Linked DNA regions of Homo sapiens. The main gene of each other region encodes a partner of the protein of the gene in region 2 in a complex. Each region holds a gene or a part of one and is shown on either strand. Other genes may lie near its edges.

What was found.
Region 1: BICDL1 (region 2) and BICD2 share a complex: the UniProt entries of both Homo sapiens proteins name them as parts of the tripartite complex.

The regions. Positions count from the first base shown.
Region 1 is NC_000009.12:92,760,146-92,771,499, reverse strand, and holds the start of BICD2 (protein bicaudal D homolog 2), read left to right. Parts: upstream 1-6,666; 5' UTR 6,667-6,755; coding exon 6,756-6,995; coding exon of another isoform or gene 6,996-7,076; intron 7,077-11,354. UniProt on the Homo sapiens protein: Acts as an adapter protein linking the dynein motor complex to various cargos and converts dynein from a non-processive to a highly processive motor in the presence of dynactin.
Region 2 is NC_000012.12:119,982,840-119,993,591, forward strand, and holds the start of BICDL1 (BICD family-like cargo adapter 1), read left to right. Parts: upstream 1-6,396; 5' UTR 6,397-7,029; coding exon 7,030-7,458; intron 7,459-10,752. UniProt on the Homo sapiens protein: Acts as an adapter protein linking the dynein motor complex to various cargos and converts dynein from a non-processive to a highly processive motor in the presence of dynactin.

The DNA.
Region 1 (11,354 bases), on a different chromosome or scaffold from region 2:
CTTGGAGGGCGTCTGTTACATTCTAGCCATTGTGTATGCGCACTGGCTCTTTCAGCCTTTACTATCTAACCATTCAGTCAGTGCTGAAGCAGTTGTTATGGAGGCCTACCTGTTCAACTGTTAGTGAGACCTGGCCTGCCACATCATCATTACTGTCTAAATTCCTAGCACAGAGGAGTTTATCAAATGCGTGATATCTGGGCCAAAGATCTTTTTTTTTTTCTTTGAGACAGAGTCTTCCTCTGTCGCCCAGGCTGGAGTGCTGGCGAGATCTCAGCTCACTGCAATCTCTGCCTTCCAGGTTCAAGTGATTCTCCTGCCTCAGCCTAGCTGGGAATAGTCCCAGAGTAGCTGGGACTACAGGTGCCCGCCACCACGCCCAGCTCATTTTTGTATTTTAGTAGAGACAGGGCTTCACCATGTTGGCCAGGCTGGCCTTGAACCCCTGACCTCAGGTGATTCACCTGCCTTGGTGTCTCAAAATGCTGGGATTACAGGCGTGAGCCACCATGCCCAACCTGGGCCAAAGATCCTTTGACGTCATACAGCATGAAAGTGTGGGGGCTGCCATGTGACTCACCATGCGGGTGGCCCAAGCCACATACACCTGGCAGGCCATCACCTGTTGGGGAGATGGCTTTACTCCTCAGCCAGTGAGGGGCAGAGAGGAGACAGGGGAAGGTGCTTACGTGGGTAGGCAGAGCTCTCCAGGGAACAGTGAGGAAGGAGGGGAGGCTGAGCTGCCAGAGTGACTACACACCAGGTTAGGTTTGAGCCTGGGCATGTCTGTGTGTGAGGACACTGCCAGCCTTTGCCTGGGCCCCTGGGGAGTCTTTGTTTATGTGCAAAGGCAGAGCAGCTTGGTTGGGAGAACATCACTTCCTGTTTTGTTGCCAGGCCCCAGCTAAGCGGTCCAGTTCTCCTAGAGGGAGCCACCCAGCTGTTCCCTGACACCCCTCAAGCCCCTCTCCCTCCCACCTCTGCTGAGGCCGCCTCCCTTATCTTATGTATCCTGCCTTCCTGGTGGAGGGCGCTTGTGTCCAGGAAGTGGTGCATGGTGAGCCCAGCCTGGTCTGTATCCGCTGAGCCCTGACCCCTAAGGGACCTTGGTTGGTGTCCCTGATATGGGTCCCAAGACTCACTAGGCCTCATCAAAGCTCCTGCCCTCCTAGAGCTAACATTCTAGGGGGACATAAGTGCACAAAGGTGAATATGCACAACATACAGTATGCAACAGAGGGAGGGAAATAGAACCAGGGAAGGGAGTCTGCAGCCTACAGCCGTGAGGGTGTAACCAAAAATAAAATTTGAAGGCACGCCCAACCATCTGAATGAACCTCCTCCTCAGCCAGGGCATTCTAAAATTTAACTTGAAAGACTAACCTGTTCAGGCCATGACATGAAGTGGGGGTTGGACATGCCCAGGGTTTATTTTACATCAACACAAACTTTAAGTCTGATAAGAAACATTTACAGTCTAGTATATCTAAAGCCTGCTATTTAAAGGTTTCATATGCATGATAAAACCTCAGCCTTTACAACCCCTGATGATAAACCAGACATTCCTTTCTACTGATAATAAATAACTTTTTCAACCAATTGCAGTCAGAATATGTTTAAATCTACCTAAGACCTGGAAGACCCCCCACCCCTTGTACACTTCAAGTTGTCCCGCCCTTCTAGATGGAACCAATGTAAATCTTACATGTATTGATTGATGTATCACTGTTACTGGAAAGGGGTTCTGATCCAGACCCCAAAAGAGGGTTCCTGGACTTCGTGCAAAAAAGAATTCTGGGTGACTCCATAGAGTAAAGTGAAAGCAAGTTTATTAGGAAAGTAAAGGAATAAAGAGTGGCTACTCCATAGGCAGAGCAGCATCATGGGCTGCTTGACTAAGGATACTTATAGTCATTTCTTGATGATATGCTAAAGAAGGGTGGATTATTCATGAGTTTTCTGGGGAAGTGGTAGGCACTTTGCAGAACTGAGGGTTCATCCCCTTGTTAGACCATATAGGGTAACTTCCTGACATTGGCATGGCATTTGTAAACTGTCACGGCGCTGGTGTGAGTGTCTTAGCATGCTAATGCATTATAACTAGCACATTATGAGCAGTGAGAATGACTAGAGGTCACTTTTATTGCCATCTTGGTTTTGGTGGGTTTTGTCTGCCTTCTTTTTTTTTTTTGAGGCAGAGTCTCGTTCTGTCACCCAGGCTGGAGTGTGGTGGCGTGATCTTGGCTCACTGCAAACTCTGCCTCTCGGGTTCAAGCAATTCTCCTGCCTCAGCCTCCCGAGTAGCTGGGATTACAGGCACCCGCCACCACTCCCGGCTAATTTTTGTATTTTTTTAGTAGAGACGGGGTTTCACCATGGTGGCCAGGTTGGTCTCGCATTCCTGACCTCAGGTCATCTGCCCGCCTCAGCCTCCCAAAGTGCTCGGATTAAAGGCGTGAGCCACCGTGCCCAGCCTTGTCTGGCTTCTTTACTGCAACCTGTTTTATCAGCACGGTCTTTGTGACCTTTATCTTGTGCCAACCTCCTATCTCATCCTGTGAGTTAGAATGCCTAACTTCCTGGGAATGCTGCCCAGTAGGTCTCAGCCTTATTTTACTCAGCCCCTATTTGAGATGGAGTTGCTCTGGTTCAAATGTCTCTGACATTATGTCTCCCAAAAATGTATAAAAGCAAGCTGTACCTTGACCACCTTGGGCACATGTCATTAGGATCTCCTAAGGCTGTGTCATGGATGCATCCTTAACCTTGGCAAAATAAACTTTCTGAGTTGATTAAGATTTGTCTCAGATACTTTTTGGTTTACAAGAGCTACACAAGAGGAGAGGGGAAGGAAGAGGTTGAGGAAGGGCCACACTTGAGCGTGCAGGGCCTTGGAGGTAGCTGTGATGATGGGGCTTTGACTTTGGTTGGGTTTTGAGCAGAGTGGGAATGGGACCTGACTTGGGTCTAAGGAAACTCTTGGCTGCCCTGCTGTGAGAGAAGCCTAGGGGAAGGAGGAGGCAAGGAGGCAGTGAGAGGGTGACGGTAATGGTCCAGGTGATAGGGACTGGGGCAGAGAAATTCCAGGTAGAAAAGGGCGGGTCCCTGGTGAAGCCTCACCGTCAAGCTGAAAGGCCTGAAACCGCAGCCCAAAATAAGAACTTATATCCCTGTTTCCCACTCAAATGTCGCTGTTTCCTAAACTACCCATGGCCCCGCCCTGCCCCATCCTTTGCCTATAAGGACCCCAGGCTCAGCCAGCAGACAGGAGAAGCAGCTGGATGTCGGGGACTATGGCTGGATGTTGGAGAGAAGCGGCTTGACTTCAGAGTGACAGCTTGATGGTGTAACTTTGGAGAAGAGTCTGGCCAGAGACAGAGAGACTTGAGGAGAAGAAGGTGGCATCATTTCTACCCCTCAGGGTATTGTGAAGATTGAATGAGAAGATGTATGTCACGTACCTGGCAATGTTGGGAACACATGCAGAGCTCAGTAAGAGGTGGCTCATTATCTGCTGCCAGGATCACCCTGCTTCTCTTATCTTTGCAAGCCCCCTATTCCTGCAGCCTTGGGCTGGCCAGTTCCTGTGCATCCTCTGGGTCTCCCTCAGGTGTCTTCTCAGGGAAGCCTTTCCCGATCCACCCCACCCCATCACACATTGCCACTCGCACCCAGAGCTGTCCCTCCTGCCAGAAGGAAGACCACAAGGGTAGTGACAGACCCTCTGCCCCCAGCACCTAGGAGAGTCCCTACCTGTAACAGAATGTTCCTGAAACCTTCCCTGGCCTCCCTTCCACCACCACCTGTTTCCAAGTTCAAAGCGCCATGGTCAGTCCCTGCGTGGGACTCCCATGGTCTTTCTCCCTCCCTCCTCAGACCTGCCCCACAGCAAGGTATGGCGGGGGGTGGGGAGGTTCGAGTCAGATCAGCCTGGATCAGGTGCAGGTGTTGCCCTGAGGCTGTGTGACCTTGGGCAAGTCACTGTGGGGCATCAGTCCCTCCCTTGCTAAGTACACACTCAAACAAGTCTTGTTCCTTCTTTACACTGGGAGCTCTCCCACTTACAGTTAACAATTTGCCCAGCCCAAGACAGTCCCAGGTAAGCCAGGAAGGTTGGTCTTCCTATTCCTACTACAACTGAACTCCTTAAAATTAGTTAATTTCACAAGCCAATCTATGACACATTCTCCTCAGACAAACAAAACACTAAAAAGAATCAGGGCTCCTTGGGGAAATGACTGATTTCAGGTCTGGGACATGGAGAGCACAAGATGATCTTGGAACAATTTGCATCAGACATCAAGGAAGTAATAACAATAATAACAAATTACGATGTTTTGAAGACATGGAGCCAGCTTGGAGGAGCTCCCACGGGCCAAATCTGCTACCATTTGAGCATCAAAGCAAGTAAGGAAAGTAATGGATTGTAACCCACGGAGTAAAATAAGAATCCATGGATCCATACTGCTAATGAATGAGAGAGAAGGGAATAGATGAGAAGGTATAGGTGCCTCACAGTACAAAGGCAACTCATAAATGGAGAAGGACTAATGGAAATAGAAAAGCAGCCAGTATGGCTGGTCGCGGTCGCTCACGCCTGTAATCTTAACACTTTGGGAGGCCGAGGCAGGCAGATCACGAGGTCAAGAGATCGAGACCATCCTGGCCAACATGGTGAAACCCACTCTCTACTAAAAAAAAAAAAAAAAAAAAAAAAATTAGCTGGGCATGGTGGCATGCGCCTGTAGTCCCAGCTACTCGGGAGGCTGAGGCAGAATCACTTGAACCCGGGAAGCAGAGGTTGCAGTGAGCCGAAATTGCATCTCTGCCCTCCAGCCTGGGGACAGAGCGAGACTCTGTCTCAAAAAAAAAAAAAAAAAAAAAAAAAAAAAAGCAGACAGTATGGTAATAATTATTTCAGGCAAGAAGTAGTCATGAATGCCAAAACCAGTGGGTCAAGGTTTGAGGAGTCATAGGCTATATCTATGGTTGCAAAGTCTTCACTCATGACACTAATTACCAAAGAAAAACCCAGCATCAATCAGAGAAATGCAAATCGACATCACATACCTCCCGGCTGGTGCTCTGAAAACTCAGCAACACCTCAGTGACAGTCCTGCCAGAAACGCATCACCTCATCACCCCATGAGCATATACCAGTGTGCACTGCACTCCTCAGAAAGGTCAATCAAAGGAGACTCAGGAAACCTGACGACTGAATGCAACTGGATCCTGGACCACAAAAACAATACTGAAACTCTCCAGTATGGTGTTGGGCCCTCGTGCAATTAGAGTGTGGACTGTGCATTAGATAGTGTCAGTACCCTGTGTGCTGTGATTTCTGCTGTCATGGCTTCTTTCTAATTTGGTCTTGAGGGAGAGTGACCATAAGCCAAGATAGCCACTCTCTAGGAGAACCGAATGGGTGTGGGGTTCAGGTGAGATACAATGAGAAAGTAAAATTAAAAGGTACAAAACAGAAGGAATTTATTATTCTTAGGTTCCGGAGAGGTTAGGGATGCCTAAGAGAGGCGGACAAGCAGATGGAGAGGGGCAGTGAGAGACGGTGGGAAGGAAGGGACTATGGCTGTGCTAGGGTCCATGGAAATCATCCTTTAGGATTTCCCTTGGGGCCTGTGGACTGGCTAAAGAAAATACGAGGGAAGGGTGAACTCATCTGCACTGATACTGGCCATTAGGTGCTATGGCGGTCAGCGGCTGTGGGGTGTGTTGCGCTTTAGGTCAATGAGATAAAGAATAAACGAGTTATCTCACACACCACCATATACGGAGAAGTGTTACCTACGCCAAGGCGAAGGGTACGACTGGCTTTCAAACAACTTAAGTCAGGCCTAAAAATAGATGCGGAGACAACAATTATATTTACCACGTTTATGACCCTGTATTAATGGAAATGTCTTTATTCCCAAGAAATAGACCTTGAAGGACTGAGGGGCGGTGCTGAGGTTCCCGCTGGCCCCTGGGCGCCCCCTGCTGGCCCGTCCTCCTCCCGCCCCCAGACGTCTGCACAGAGCATGCGTCACACCGTCCACGGGTTTCCAGCAGCAGCCGTTCACCCGCGCTCTCGGATGCGCTTCTAGCTCGTGGCCTCCCGGGCTCTGTCCGCGTTGTTCGTCCCACGGTCGGGAGCCCAGTCCTGCCGCCCCGCACCCGCCTCCCCCTGGGGGTTCTCCCGGCAGCCGTCTTGCCACCCCGCGTGGCCGCCGGCTGCCAGAGGCACAGGGGAGCGCGAGGCCCGGCGACCGAGCAGTGTCCCCGGCTCTGAGTGTGGGGAAGGCCGCGGGGCCGCGCCCACTCGACCGCCGTCCAGGGGACTGCAAGGCGCCGGTACATCCGGCTCGACGCTGGCGGCGCAGGCCAATCACGGACGGGGACGGGTGGGCGCGGGGCTGGACGGGTTTTGTAGTCGGTGCGCTAGCGGGACTACTGTCCCCACAGCCCCCTGGGCCACATTGGCGTCAGTGGCTGCGCCCGAGGGCCCGCCCCTCACAGAGCATGGGCCAATCATAGCCGGGGGCCGGGCGGGCGCCGGGCATGATGGACCTTGTGGTCGGAGCGCAGGCAGGACTCCAGCCCCCAGCGGGCCCCGCGCGCCGGAGGGGAGGAGCCGTGCGGCGGCGCGGGCGGGCGGGCGGCCGTCGGGGCAGGGCGGCGGCGGCGGCGGCAGCGGCGGCGGCTGAGGAGGGCCCGGCCTGCGAGAGCCTCAGTGGGAGCCGGCTCAGCCCTCGGCCACCATGTCGGCGCCGTCGGAGGAGGAGGAGTACGCGCGGCTGGTGATGGAGGCGCAGCCGGAGTGGCTGCGCGCCGAGGTGAAGCGGCTGTCCCACGAGCTGGCCGAGACCACGCGTGAGAAGATCCAGGCGGCCGAGTACGGGCTGGCGGTGCTCGAGGAGAAGCACCAGCTCAAGCTGCAGTTCGAGGAGCTCGAGGTGGACTATGAGGCTATCCGCAGCGAGATGGAGCAGCTCAAGGAGGTGAGCCGAGCCGCCCTGCCCTGCGACCCCCGCCCGGCGCCGGGGCCTGTGGGCGTCGTCCCTGGCACCAGGGCGGCCAAGGTCAGCTTGCCAAGCGGGGGCCGGCAGGGGTGGGCCGCCGGGGCGGAGGGGGCACGGGCAGTATGTGGGAGTGGGCCCGGCCTTGGCTAGCAGGCCGGTGCCGCGGCCGTTGCAGACGCCGCTAATGCAGGGGTCCGGGCGCCTTGTCGCCTCCTGCAGCTGCCCGCCTGCTTCTGTGCGGACCTGGGCGGCCCCGGCGGGGCGGGGCTTCGTAAGGGCTGATGCTTTGCGGTGGTCGCTGTTCCGGGTGTGTCTGAGTGTGGGGTGGGGTTGGGAGGGCAGTGGCTGAGCCGGGAGCTGAGGCCACGGATGCTGGTGACCCGCTGGGAGAGGCCGAGGGTGGGCCTGGGTCTGGGTGGCTGCGGCTCTGTCACCTTCAGAGAAAGCACTTCCCCTCTCTGGGCGCAGCTACTTTCGGAGCGTTTCTGCTTCTTTCATGAGTGCCTCCGAGGTGGGGAAAGGTCGTGGACAGCGGCCTAAGTGAGTAGGGGCTCGGGGTTGCACGTGGAGGTTGCCCCTGGCATGGGTCCCCCAGTACCCTTGCCCCAGGCCCAGCGCTGTGTCCTCATGGCCGGGATTGCGCTCCCACCAGCTAGCATGACTTCCCTGGCCCACTTCCTGTCCAGCCCCGCTTCTCGGGCCCTTCCCCTCGCTGTGGCTTGCTGTGTTCCTCTTGGACGGAGACCTCAGTGGTCTGTGTCATTCCCACTGGGGGGAGAGTAGGTTAGACCACCAGGCTGGTCGAGGGTCTCCAGGCGGCAGGGCAGCGGGAGTCTTGGACAGTCCTTCCCCAGCTTCTCTTCTCCCGTTCCCTGACTCCATAGCGTTGTTTGCAGGAATTGCTTTCTGGGAGGATACACCAGGGTTTGGATCCAGGCTGTGCCCCTTGCTAGTGATGTGGCTTTGGGTAGAGGCCCTCCGTGAGTCTTAGTTTCCCCCTCTGCAAAATGGGAGTGCAGTACTGCGTGCCCAGAAAGGATTGTTGTGAGGGTCATGTATTTGGAAAGGACTGGTGTGCGGTCAGGAGTATAGCTTGGTGGTGTGCTCCCTTCCCCCACTTGAGTGTGTCCTGGTGAGCCCTTGGCTCTTGGTTTCCAGGCTTATCACCTGGCACCTCTGCTCCCAGTCAGCCCAGACAGGTGCCTAAATCATTTGCAGCCTTCCTTGCCTCCCCCGTGTCTGAGGAGACCCGTCTGTGGAGAGCAGAGAATGAATCCAAGCAGATGCTTGGATGTCTGGGCAGAGCAGGTGCTCAGTTAGTACCAGTCAATGGCTGACCCTGGGCCAGCAGGAGCTGGGTCCTCCCCCATCGCCCTCAGGACTCGATTCTGTTGTCTGTCAGCAGGTATTGGCACCTTCTGCAATGCATGCTCCAGTGGCGCTGGAGCTACAAGAGGGGTGAGATGCAGCTGCTCTTGCAAGAGTCCCCATCTTAGGGTGGGGCGTGTGATAGGGAGGCAGGGGGCTCTGAGAATATGGAGTGGGAGTGGACTCGGCCAGTTTCTGGTCTCCTGTAGCGGGGCTCACCCTCTCCAGCAGGCAGCACTATCTGTTAGGGCGCTTTTCCCTCTGCACACAGTGAAGCAGCCCTCTTCCTCCTACCAAGTGCATCGTGAGCCGCTCCTGGGCAGCCTCTACAGTCCCTGTCTCTGTCCACAGCTTGGGTTTGGCAGTGTCCTCTGTGAGAAGGAATTGTCGCTGACTTAACTTGTCCCCGCTTTGGTGCCCTTCATTTGTCAGGTCTTTGCTATTCTGACACAAACGTTTTGGCACAGTGAAGAATCTTGGCATTTTCGTGGCATGTATCTGGAGGGTGAGTCCCTAGCAGAATCAGGAAGAGGGTATACCTGTTTCTGTGGGTACTCTTTAGGCGTCTGCTTGCTTGTTTTTTGTCACCACCTGGCTTCCATGTACTGGCCACATGGCCTTGGACAAATTACTGCTCTGTTCTGAATCTAGTTCTCCTTTGTAAGGTGGGATAAGAATGTTTCTGCTCGGTCTCTAGCAGAGTCTAGAGGAATGTGCATCAGCGTTTCAGTTTCAGTAGATGTTGCCAGAAAGTTTGTACCAGTTCACCCCCCATCAACAGCATGCGTGTTCCTCACACCCATGCCAACACAGGCTCTTGCTAACCTATTTAATTATGGCCAGTATTATAGTTGAAAATATTAACTCTTCATTTAAAAAAAACCACAAGATTTAAGGAGTCAATAATTGTGGGGTTTTTTTTCTCCTGTAGAGCGGTGTACCGCCTTAATTCTTTAGAAAACTTTATTTCTTGAACTAAAGTGCATTTAGTTACTAATAAATTGTGCTCCAAATGGAGTTGCTTGTACTTCTGCCCTGCATTTGTAGATAATAGGATCGTTGAGGGAAGGACGCTGGCCTGCTGGTCCCAGTGTGTGGGTTTCTGATCAGAGCTGAGGAGGGTCTTGTGGTGATGAATGGGAGACAGTGCCAGTCCTGTTGCCTTTCTCATGGGATGGGGGAAGTGTCTGTGTCCTGCTGACAACATAGCACGGTGCTGGCTGAGACCACAAGTGAGGTGGGTGCCCCCTGGTTGATTTTGCCTAATCATTCTGCTAGTGATTTCTTGAGCCTGACTCAGTTAAGACCATATCTGTCCCCGTTCCCACTGTGCCCTTTCCCTTCCTCTCCCTGGAATGGTGGGGAAGAGAATTAGATGGGCTTTGGTCAGCAACCTGGTGTTCCTGGTCCTGCGTGGCCGTGAGACACTTTGTTCTGTGTTCTTAGCTGTAGCTTTAAGAGGACAGGTGTGCTGAGGTGGCAGCTCCTGCCTTCAGGGCACAGGCAGGGACTGTAGCTAGGTGGGCTAAGGCTAGGTGCCCATGTGGTCCTCATGGTCAGGGGAGGGTAATGGGGGAGGTCTGAGAACAGTCTTGACTCCACCTGAGCTCAGGCTCAGAGAGGAGGTCTGGACACCCTCACTGCCTTGGTGTGCCACCTTGGTGTCATAGTGTCAAGCTCTGGAGCACCATTGTCCTTGTCTGAGAGGTGCACGTGGGTGGAATTGGGTGTTGGACTGGGCACAGCACCCAACACGCAGCAAGTGCTTCGTAGGTCTTCTGCGGACTGAATCTCATGCCTCACTCAGGTCTCTGTCTCCTTGCTGCTGCACCTGCAGCTTCTCCCCGTTCTTATCCTTGTCCCTGCTCAGTCTCAAGTGGCTTCCATTGCCACCTCCCAAGGGCTGCCCTAAGCATTGTCTCAGGCCCCTACAGCCTGGCTTGGGACTGCCCTACCTCTCCTGTGCCCACATTCACCCTTTGTCTTAGAAGTCCCACCTGCCCTTCAAGCTTGGGTGTCTCTAAAATTCCCCTGCCTGCTGCCTTCTGGACTTGCTGAGCCCTGTTCCCAGCACCTGGGCAGCTGCAGGAAGTGGGGGCAATAGGGTGATTGGCAGAGGACCCTCCAGGAGGTTCCTCTGCAGAGTTACTGGGGGTGAGGCCCAGCCTCTTTGATTGTTTGCTTCCAGAGCAGGAAAAGTCCTGGTCTTGGTTAAAGCAAGTGTGGGATTCTCCCATTCGTCTGATAACCCCTGAGAACATTGTTGTGTCCATTTCTGAACAGAAGGCTGTTGGGAGCAAGGAGGCTCTGGGAGACCCAAGGGCCTTTCAGGGGGCTGGGTGGTGGCAGTGGTCTGCTGTTGGTATGAGGAAGCCTGGCTTGGGTGGGAGCTGGGGCCCTGTGAATACCTGAAGCACAGATGGGTCTGACAGTTGGGGAGAGGCAGCTATAGGCATCCAAAGATGATGACCATGTGGCTACACTGTTGTCACTAATTGTTGGGCAATTCTCTCCCCGCTGGGCCTCTCTTTCCCCACTTTTAGAATATGGGGCAGGGGGTCATGAAGGAATCTTTAGGGACCCTTACACTTTTAAAAATGTCTGAAACTCCCACATCGAGCCCTGGTGCTGTTTCTTCCTGTAGGGCCTGGCGACTGGGCACTTGTGTATCTCAATCATCCTGGGACCTGGCCAGGGAATCTGCCCAGCCCTAGGCATGCGGATGGTGTGCTCCAGGCCAGCCCTGCCAGCATGTGGAGGCGTGGACCTGGCCACCCTCCATGGGATTCAAGGCAGGCACAGCTGTGATGGAGCAGCTCGTCTTTGGGGATGCCAAGCGAGCATGCTTTGTGGCTTAGCAGGTGGATCCAGAGGAAGGCCAGGCCCAGTGCTGGGAGCCCCTGGGCCCCTGGGGGTGCCTGGCACCACCTGAGCAGGACCGACTGTATATGATGTCTGTCCCTGTGAACT
Region 2 (10,752 bases):
AACTAGATGCAGCCCAGGAAGTCTGGTTCATGATCATTAAGGGGAAAGACTGAAGATGCCTAATCAGAAGGGAGGAAAAATGGGTCAGAAGCTGGAAATGACAGTTGTCAGAAAATAACTGGCAGAGGTAACAGGGCAGCTAGACCTGGGGTATTAGGCAAATCCTTGGGAGAGAGGAGTTCTCATCTGGAAGGGAAAAGTTGGGCAAGGATGTTGGTAGGAAAGGATAGAAGCTGGAGGAGAGGAAGTTGGGAACTCACACTGTGTATCCATATAGGGACAAGATGAGGCTTCTATTTACCTTCTGAGTAGCAGAGAAGGAACTTCCCGACATCAGGCAGGGCAGGGTCTCTGCTGAAGACTGACACCGGTGAGCACCAGCCACTGATGTTAACATTTTTCCCCTAAAAACCAACTTGAGAACCACCAGGGGTATACACACCACATTCTGCAAAATGTTGAGATCACTCCTCTCTAAAAAATATAAAGTGCTTTGGGTAACATTTGATGAATGTCCAAGACTTGTATGTTTCCACGATTATTTCATAGACAAAATATACAACTTAAAACACGCGTGATCTGCTGGTGCACACAAACACACACATCATAGCTAAATGAAAATATCAAGCATAGAACAGCTTTATTACACATTTTGCCAGTTCCTCATGTTTCTTCAACACTTGGCTTTTCAAAAACAAATTTTCGAGACGTTTTGTCTTTTACACTTTCCAGTTTTCACGGACCAAGATGTTAATAAAAGTAAACAACTTGGGGAAATCGGATGAGCGTTGTCATATTTGTAGATATCAGGATCTCTAAGAAGGAAAAATGTCATGTTTTGCCCTTAGTGATGTAATAGCACTTACGTGGAAATTCACCCATAGTATGTTAAGTATGTAAACTGTACTCATACTCAAGTTTACCAGACTATCCAGGTACTAAAACTAACACTAATGCAAATATATTTTAAAGGAATACATAAGTGATAAAAAGTGAAGTGCAGTAGAGTAACTAAGAACAAGTCCATTAGAGACAGACAGTTCTAAAACACTAGCATCATAGTATCATGTACTAGTATATATTGGTGTAACACACTACCATTATAGGGTTATTGTGAGGATTAAATGAGAGAGTGTTACATAAAGGATTTAAGGAGCACAGTGCTAAATGTATTTTAGCTGTTATTGTTCTAGCATGAAGAAGAATAAATTTAATAAGCTTCTTAGAAGTCTGATGGTTTTCATAACTTGGCTTTAATGAGTTTTAAATCCTGGCACTAATTTCCATATAGGCAGGTATATATTCATTCTGTTACCTCAAGGCTGACCTAATGGACTTGAATCAGCAGTTCCCAGAGTGTGGTGCACCGGCTCCTAAAGGTCCTAGAGTCTTTCAGAGGGCTACCAAGAAAAGAACTATTTTCATAATAAGTGTAAGGATTATCATTCTAATGTTATTAACAATAGCAAACTAATTTCATAATAATGCTAATCATCTAATACTATTTTTGTTTGTAATTATGTTGACATTTGCACTGATGGTGCAAAAGCAATGGTAGGTAACACCACTGATACCTTAGCATGAGTCAAGGCAGTGTTACCCAGCTGTGCTGGTACACATGGTAGTCTTCACTTTCATGTGCTCATAGAAAAAACAGAAGCTAGTTTTATTAACCAATGTCCCTGACGAAGCAGTACTTCTATTAAGTCCAGACCCTTGAGTGCACATCTTTTTAATATTTCATGTGATGAAATGGGAAGTACCCACAAAGCACTTCTGCTGTGTACTGAAGTATGATGGTTATCTTGAGGTGAAGCACTTGTACCTCCGTTTGAGTTGGGAACTAACTAGCCACATTTTTCACGGAACACTGTTTTTACCTGAATGAATGACACAAACTGTGGTATTCAGATTCGGGTATTTGGCAGATATTTTCTCAAGAATTAATGAAGTAAGTCTGTTACTTCAAGGAAAACAACTCAAAATATTTGTTACTAATGATAAAACTCAAGCTTAGTAACTTCTCAATACTTAAAGACTTTTATGATGAGATCAGTGGTGGTGATATTAATGAATGTGATTAGGCTGATATTGTGTAATGACATGTGACAATATTTGTAAGATCTGCATAACTCAGACATTTTCCAAATGAAAATACATGCTGTTATACAATCAATCATACATATGTAAAAAATCCATTCAAAGTGAAAAATAGATCAATGGGATTTCCTTGACATGGTTTTAGATTTCACATTGCAACTAACCTTTAAGAAACTACAACTTGTCATCTGGGCGCAGTGGCTCACGCCTGTAATCCCAGCACTTTGGGAGGCTGAGGTGGGTGGATCACCTGAGGTCAGGAGTTCAAGACCAGCCTGGCCAACATAGTGAAACCCCGTCTCTACTAAAAATACCAAAATTAGCCAAGTGTGGGGGCACATGCCTGTAGTCCCAGCTACTTGGGAGGCTGAGGCAGGAGAATCACTTGACCTGGGAGGTGGAGGATGCAGCGAGCCAAGATTGCGCCACTGCACTCACTCCAGCCTGGGCAACAGAGTGAGACTCCATCTCAAGAAAGAAAGAAAGAGAGAGAGAGAGAGAAAGAAAGAAACTATAACTTGTCAAGTTTGGGTGTAATATCAAAGAAAAATATCCAAAATGAAAAGGCTACTAAAATATTCCTCCTTTTCCCAACCACATATCTTTGTGAGTCCAAATTTTCTTCATATATTTCAAAATATCATACATTATAGATATATCCAAATACAAGAATTCACTTTTCTACTGTTAAGCCATACATTACAGAGGTTTACAAAAATGAAGAATAACGCCATTCTTCTCACTAGTTTTTTTTACATTTAGGACCATATAGTTATTGTTCATAAAAATTCATTATAGTTACATATAATAGGTTTATCATAAATATTTAAAATGAATTAATTATTTAAAAACTTTTTTTTTGGAGATGGAGTCTCACTCTGTCACCCAGGCTGGAGTGCAGTGGCGTGACCTTGGCTCACTGCAACGTCCGCCTCCCAGGTTCAAACGATCCTCCCGCCTCAGCCTCCTGAGTAGCTGGGACTACAGGCACATGCCACCATGCACAGCTAATTTTTGTATTTTTAGTAGAGACAGGGTTTTGCCATGCTGGCCAGGCTGGTCTTGAACTCATTACCCCAAGTGATCTGCCTGCCTCGGCCTCCCAAAGTGCTAGGATTACAAGCATGAGCCACCGTACCCGGCCCAAGAGTGTAATGAGATTCTGAGACCAAAATGTTTAAGAACCACTATTTTGAATAGTTCTGCAAAGTTGGGCTGGTTCTCCCAGAAAGACAGTGCTTAGAGCCAAACCTACTGTAAGAAGTGAACATTTCCTAGTAAGGTTCAGCAGTGGAACATTGTTAGGAAGGAAATTCAGAAGCTGGAGTTAGAATTGTAACAGTTCATTTTCACAGTAACAGATAAGTGGAACAGATTAGGACCATTGGGCTCAAGGCAGGCAAACAAAGTCATTTTTTGAAAGATAGGCTGCATGTCTGCATTAAGGAAAAAGAGCTGAAACTCTTTTTTTTTTTTTTTTTTTTGACAAGTTCTTGCTCTGTCACCCAGACTGGAGTGCAATAGTATGATCAGGGCTCACTGCAGCCTTGATCTTCCAGGCTCAACTCACCCTCCCATCTCAGCCTCCTGAGTAGCTGGGGCTATAGGCACACACCACCATGCCTGGCTAATTTTTTTGTATTTTTTGTAGAGACGGGGTTTTGGCCATGTTGTCCAGGCTAGTCTCAAACTCCTGGGCTTATAAGACCCTCCCACTTTGGCCTCCCAAAATGCTGGGGTCATAGGCATGAGCCACCCAACTGGTGGAGAGACAGGATCTTGCCATGTTGCCTGTTATAAGTAAAATGTTTATTTAGAAACAGAATGCTTGTTCCTCGGTACCACGAGGAAAAATCAGCATTTAGAGAGAAAGTTTTCTCAGCAATGCAATTTTAGTTTCTGCAGAAAGGGTGCTCCTTGCAGCTGGAACAATGGCAAGAGCACACCTGAATAAAGGAAAGAAGCAATTTTTATCCCTTACGCAGTTTGTCCCTGCTACTGTGCCTTGTCTCCATTGGCTGGAGCCAGACCTTACAATTTAAACTGAACCTGATAGGCTAACAACTTAAAACTTTTCTAAATAGGTAAAAGCAATGGAGAACAAAGGAAAAGAGGAAGTTATTTATGAAAAGACTTAGAAAAGTAGTAACATTCCCAAATAGGGAAGGGGCATAGGCTGCAAGCTGGGACATGCCAGTGAGCATGTCCAGCACAGGTATCTTGGTTAAAGTACATGGACATAGAATGTACTCATTCCCTTAGATCTAACAGCTACATAGGAAAGGGCTTAACAGAGAGTTATTAGCATAAAATAAGGTGGCTTGAAGGAAGTTAGTCTTTAAAAGAAACCATTATTTCTAACACTTATTATTCATTCTTTAACAAGAAGGGAAGCTTTGAAGAGGAAACTTTACTTTCTACATTGTCCAAGCTGGTCTTGAACTCCTGGGCTCAAGCAATCCTCCTGCCTCAGCCTCCCGAAGTGCTGAGATTATAGGCAGGAGCCACAGAGCCTGGCCCTGTTTGTTCTTGATGTGTCTCCAGACATATTAGGGAGAAATTTGTCCTTCTGTGATTCAAATAAGACAAAAGGAAGTGGCAATTGGATCTCACCTCTGGCCCACAATTCCAGCTCAAGGTGGGAGGTCATAATAAAAAGTGTTAGAACATTTCCTTGCTGGAATGGTAACATGGTCAACTGCAGAAATTTAGCTCTAAGATTGATGTGGGAATCCCTCAACTGTCTGTCTCCTTTCCAGTCAACAAGTGAACAATGCCAGCCCTGAGGCCCAGGAGCTTTTCAGATTCTGGCCTTCAGTCTAAGGGTAACGATGTTAAAACTTGAATATTGTTTAGGCTCTGAATTTAATAAGCGATAAAAACCATGAGAAACTATTTGACCCATTTCAGCCTCTTGATGTTCTGAAATTTCCATCTCACTGGGATGAAAAGAAGAAAGGCATGATCCAAGTAAAAAATGGGTTGTCTGTCCAAGAGGAAAAGGAAGCATAGGGACGAATTCTAGCTTTAGATGGGATTGTTTCTGGAAATAGGAGACACGTAGCACCACCAACGAGGTCAACACCAAGGAATGACTGCAAGTCACCCAGTAGGCTCTCCAAACCTTCCTTTAATCATTGAGGAAATGTTCCTTCCATATCCACCCAATCCATCTTGGTCACAAAGGACCATTTATCTTCCTCAAGACTGCTTCTATGTGAAGAAAATAAAGAATAATGATTCACGTGATCCCTGGCGTCGGCCTGGCTAGATCTCAATCCTGACTCTACCAGTTGTAATGACCTGGGCAGACGATGCCATCTCTCAGGCTTTAATTTCCTTCTCTGTTAAAATGACAAGCGGCAGTACTGATTTTATAAAGTTCTTGTGAGGATTATCTAAAATAATGACTATCAAGCACTTAATACAGGACATGGCACACACTGAGTGCCGAATAAACGGTAGTTATTATTAGGGAGGTTCTTTGCTTCGTATTCCCATCTGTGAGCAGTTTTTTCCGTTATTTCTCCGCAGAAACCCTTTCTCTCCGGGCTGCTGATCTGCGAAGCATCTGGTCCTTCATATCCCTGAGTCATCAGCATGAAGATGCCTGGTTTCCGAAGTCCTCCCTCCTCCTACTGCTCTCTAGGGCTCCCTCTCCTGACTGCTTAGTTCTCCTGGGGGCCCAGACCTAAATTTCGTGAGGGTATGTCTTTCTCGGGGCCGGGTCACCAGTCTTGGAGGAATGTCCTCAGTCCCCTTTGCCCCAGACACCACCAGAGATGCGGCAACAGAACTCTGAGGCGCGCCCCGGCTTCCAAGTAGCTGGGGGCGGGGCCGCGCCTGGAGGTGAGCAGCAGGCGGTGGGCGGGGCCGCGCTCCGTCCGAGGTGAGAGCGAGGCCGGGTGCGAGGCCACACCCCGAGGTACGAGAGCTGAGGGCGTGGCCACACCCCAGCTCTGAGCGAGGCTGAGGGCGGAACCGCACCCCGAAGTGGGTGCAAGGCTGGGGGCGTGGCCGCGCGGTGAGGCAGCCAGGACCGTGAGGGATGCGCCAGCCGCCTCCGCAGGCGGCGCGCGCAGCCGCCCGCAGGGCGTGAGGCAGAGCAGGGGTTAAGGCCGCCGGCGCCACCTGGGCGTCGCTGAGGAGACCCGCGAGCCGGCGAATCCCGCGCGGGCGGGGCGAACAGGTGCCCGCGCGCGTCAGGCGCCGGCAAGGGGCGGGGCGAGGGGACGCGGCCGGAAGCCCGGGGCGGGGCGCTGCCGGCCCGGTGAGCCGGGAGGAGCCGGGGAAGGCAGGAAGGAGCTCGCCGGGTTGCGCGGCGCGCGATGTGGAGCCGCCGCCTCGGCCCCTGCAGCAGCAGCAGCCGCCGTCGCCGCCGCTGCTGCTGGGGCTGCCGCGGAGCCGGGGGTCATGGAGTGCGGCTGCAGAGAGCGGCCGCCGGCAACAGCAGCAGCAGCAGGAAGCGTCGCGGCGACAGCGGAGCGCAGCCCGCCCCGTGAGGCGCTGCCCGGCCGGCGGCGGCAGCAGCAGCAGCAGCGGCAGCGGCAACAGGGCGGCTGAGAACCCGGCGGCGGCGTTCCTCCTCGCTTCCTCCCCTCCCGCTTCGCCGACCCTCAGTCTCTGTTCCTGAGTCCTCCCTTCCCCAGCCTTCCCGTTCCCACCACCTACTCCGCCACTACCCCCACCCCCTCCTCCCGCGCGCGCCTGAGCAGCTGAGCCCGGGGGCGGGGGAGGGGGCGCGTGCCGCCGGCGCGGGGGAGGGGCGGGCCGGCGCGCGCCGCGCCCAGGGCTCGCGGGGACCCGGGGGCGCGTGCCGCGGCGCGAGGCGAGGCGCGGGACGCGGGGCGGCGCGGCAGGGCCCCTCCCCCCTGCAGCCTGGCGCGCGCGGGCCGGGCCGCACCGCTGCGGGCTCCGCGCGCGCGGGCCATGTCCGCTTTCTGCCTGGGCTTGGTCGGCCGCGCTTCAGCACCCGCCGAGCCGGACAGCGCCTGCTGCATGGAGCTGCCCGCCGCGGCCGGGGACGCAGTCCGGAGTCCCGCCGCCGCCGCCGCCCTCATCTTCCCCGGGGGCTCCGGGGAGCTAGAACTGGCGTTAGAGGAGGAGCTGGCGCTGCTGGCGGCCGGGGAGCGGCCGTCCGACCCCGGGGAACACCCTCAGGCCGAGCCTGGGTCTCTGGCCGAGGGGGCCGGACCGCAGCCGCCGCCCTCCCAGGACCCCGAGCTGCTGTCGGTGATCCGACAGAAGGAGAAGGATCTGGTGTTGGCGGCCCGGCTGGGTAAGGCGCTGCTCGAGAGGAACCAGGACATGAGCCGGCAGTACGAGCAGATGCATAAGGAGCTGACAGACAAGCTCGAGGTGAGGACCTCCCTCCAGGGATGGGTGGGGAGCAGGGGCCGCCCAGGCACGCGCCCGGCCCTGGGCAGTTAGGGAACCACTCACCCCCACTTCGTTGCTCACCCTACCTCGCAGAAAATCTGGAATGAATGGGGGAGGGAGGATGGAGGATTATCAGATTTCGTTGAACCCACTTGACTTCCCCACCCCGCTCACAGCAAATGGGTCCATGCGTGGCTCCAGCCGCTGTGGGCCGTTCTATATACGTACTGTACCCAGCATCTAAAATAGAGCTTACAGTATGACTATATAGCACTGAGGTGATGTCTGCATACAGAGAAATGAGGAAGTCGGGAAGCATTTAAAATATGTTGCAGGTTTTCAGAGCAGTTAATCTCTAATCAGGGTGTTAGCCTAAAGCCTTCCAGTTTGGGCGTTAAGGCCTTTAGATGCCCTTGTCTTAACTTCCTGGCAGCTCAGAGTTGTGGGAAACAAGTGCCCCTAAAGGAGCTTTATATAGCCTTCAAATGCTCAGGGATTAGGAAATGTGGTTCCATTGCAGAAATCAGGCGAGCCAGGGCTCAACATGTGACCGCTGGTAGTGGATTTAATTTGGGCCTCAGTATTTATGTGTATTTAAACAGTACTTTTCTGTGTTCTGGGTCTCAGGCTTGCAATTGAATGACCAAATGCAACCTATGAGAACCATATTACTTTAACTTCTGTTATAAAATACCTGTTAAGGTATCCGTAATATTTCTGCCAGTTCTCTAGGCAGTCTTTCAGAGTTGTTTGTTTTCTTGCCCTTAACTAGAAAAGGGCCTTGAATGCAGTACAGAATGCCAGCATTTCTAAAAATTAGATTGCAAAAAAAAGGGGCAGGGGGATGGGGAGAGGGAGTCACCTGTGACTTACCTTTCCTGCCTGTGCGTTTACTATTATTGTTACCTAGTTTGGTTGCAGCCAGCTCTTTTCATTCTTAGTTACAGCAAGACAATAGTACAGACCTGAATGAGGTTTGAAATTGACCCTAGTCAGGTTCCGTATCTCTGCTACTGGTTGAACAGTCAGAATGGAAATTCAGAAATATTCTGTAATAAGATTTAAGTATGCCTATAGTCCAGCGACGTAAAAGTAAATCCGGGAGAAAAAAAGGAAACCTGTGAGTGCCCTGTAGTTCGGTTGTCCTGCTAACTAGGTCTGCCAGTCGATGAACTCCTGAGATACCTCTCTGAAAAGTCGTTTGTGAAACCTATAGGTAGACTGCCAAAAAGCAGCCTAATGAATTGAATTGTTTAATTTTCACTTGAAGTAGAGGTCTAGAAATAAAAAGCCTTCCTTTTTTTTTTATAAAGAGATTCAGTTGTACGACTTTGTAAAGAAGTACAACTACAGAGATTTATACTTGTGATTTGAAATTTCTTCAGTGAAGGACTTGATTGAAGAGACAGCTGACTTGAAAGGAGCACCGTATCAGTTTGATTAGTGCCAGATTTCATAGTAATCCTGAGTGTGCAATTACATACATTCTGGGTTCCATGTGGAGCCTTTATACATTTCTTCAACATAGGGCAAAGATTTCAGAATGGTAACAAAAAAAGGTTGTATTGTAAAAGAATAAATTATCTTTGACATTTTGTTATTTACTTAATGGACAACAATAGTTTAAAACTCTTTAAACTATTTTTTAAAACCTTCATTCCTCTGCAGGTCAGCATATGAACTCTAGTTTTAAAAGTTCAATTTTAAGTTCTGGAGATAGTCGCACAACAATGTGAATATAACTAACATATACTTAACATATACTTACAGGCCAAATATTGATCATTGTTGAAACTCAGTGATGAGGGGAGTCAGTTATATTATTTCTTATAGGTAGGTTTGAAAATTATAAAAAATTTTAAAGTTTTAAAAATGTTCATTAAAGATACTAAGAGAGTACCATTAGTTGCTTGTTAATCTTTCTAGTGTTAATGTGAGAGTGACAAACCTGGTTTACAGAGTACTGTTTTATTTGACACCTCCGGTTTAGTTTTCCCCACAGTACATTGTTTGAACAATGTAGGTTTTAGAATGTCTGTTTAGACAATACTTTCTAACGTTCAGTACAAACTGCTGTACTTTGTACTTTTTTCTTTTTTAGACAAGATCTCACTCTATCCCCCAGGCTGCAGTGGAGTGGCTGATCATGGCTTACTGCACCCTCAAGTGACCCTCCCACTCAGCCTCCTGAGTAGCTGGGACTACAGGCGCCTACTACACACCTGGCTAATTTTGTAAAAATGTTTCGTAGAGATGGGGTCTCACTATGTTGCCAAGGCTGGTCTCAAACTACGGGGCTCAAGCAGTCCTCCTGCCCTGGCCTTCCAAAGTGGTGGGATTACAGGAGTGAACCATTGAGCCTGGCCTGTATTTTCAATTAAATCAAACACTTGGGAGTATAAAACCAGTACTTTAAGACGCATTTATTCATGAGAGAACTTGACCAGAAAAAAAAAATTTATAATCTTCCACAAACTGTCGGACATTTGGAGTCAAACACATTTTCTTACAGGGTGGTTTGAAAGAGAAACATGTGAGTGGACTGAGGGAATGCCACTTTCACTATTGAATAATGAGACTGGTTTTATTTTAATCCCATCTTCTCTACTACTTCAAAATTGGCACCTTTCTTCCACCCCCCCACCCTGCCCCCCAGATGGAGTCTCGCTCTGTCGCCCAGTCTGGAGTGCAGTGGCGCAATCTCAGCTCACTGCAAGCTCCACCTCCCAGGTTCATGACATTCTCCTGCCTCAGCCTCCTGAGCAGCTGGGACTACAGGCGCCCGCCACCACGCCTGGCTAATTTTTTTTTTTTTTTTGTATTTTTAGTAGAGACGGGGTTTCACCATGTTAGCCAAGATGTTCTCGAGCTCCTGACCTCGTGATCCGCCTGCCTCGGCCTCCCAAAGTGCTGGGATTACAGGCATGAGCCACTGCGCCGGGCCGGCACCTTTCTAATGTCGGGACAAACAAGGCATTTTCAAGATCTTTTCTACCTATTCATTAGTTAATACTAAATACCTCTCTGGTTCTGTGTGCCAAGCCCAAGATTTTGTTGTTTTCATTTCAAACATTAAAGTACTTGATGCTACACTATTGTGTCATTAAAGGCATACTATTAATATTTAAAGTCTTCAGTGGTTTAAAGGTTAACAGAAGTTTTTTAGTTATATGTCTCTTGGGGTTAAAATGAAAATTCAGGTTAATTGGAAAAACTGTAAGGTTTGGGCCATTTTTTCCGCTCTTGAATTGACTCTGTATTTTGTTACTCATT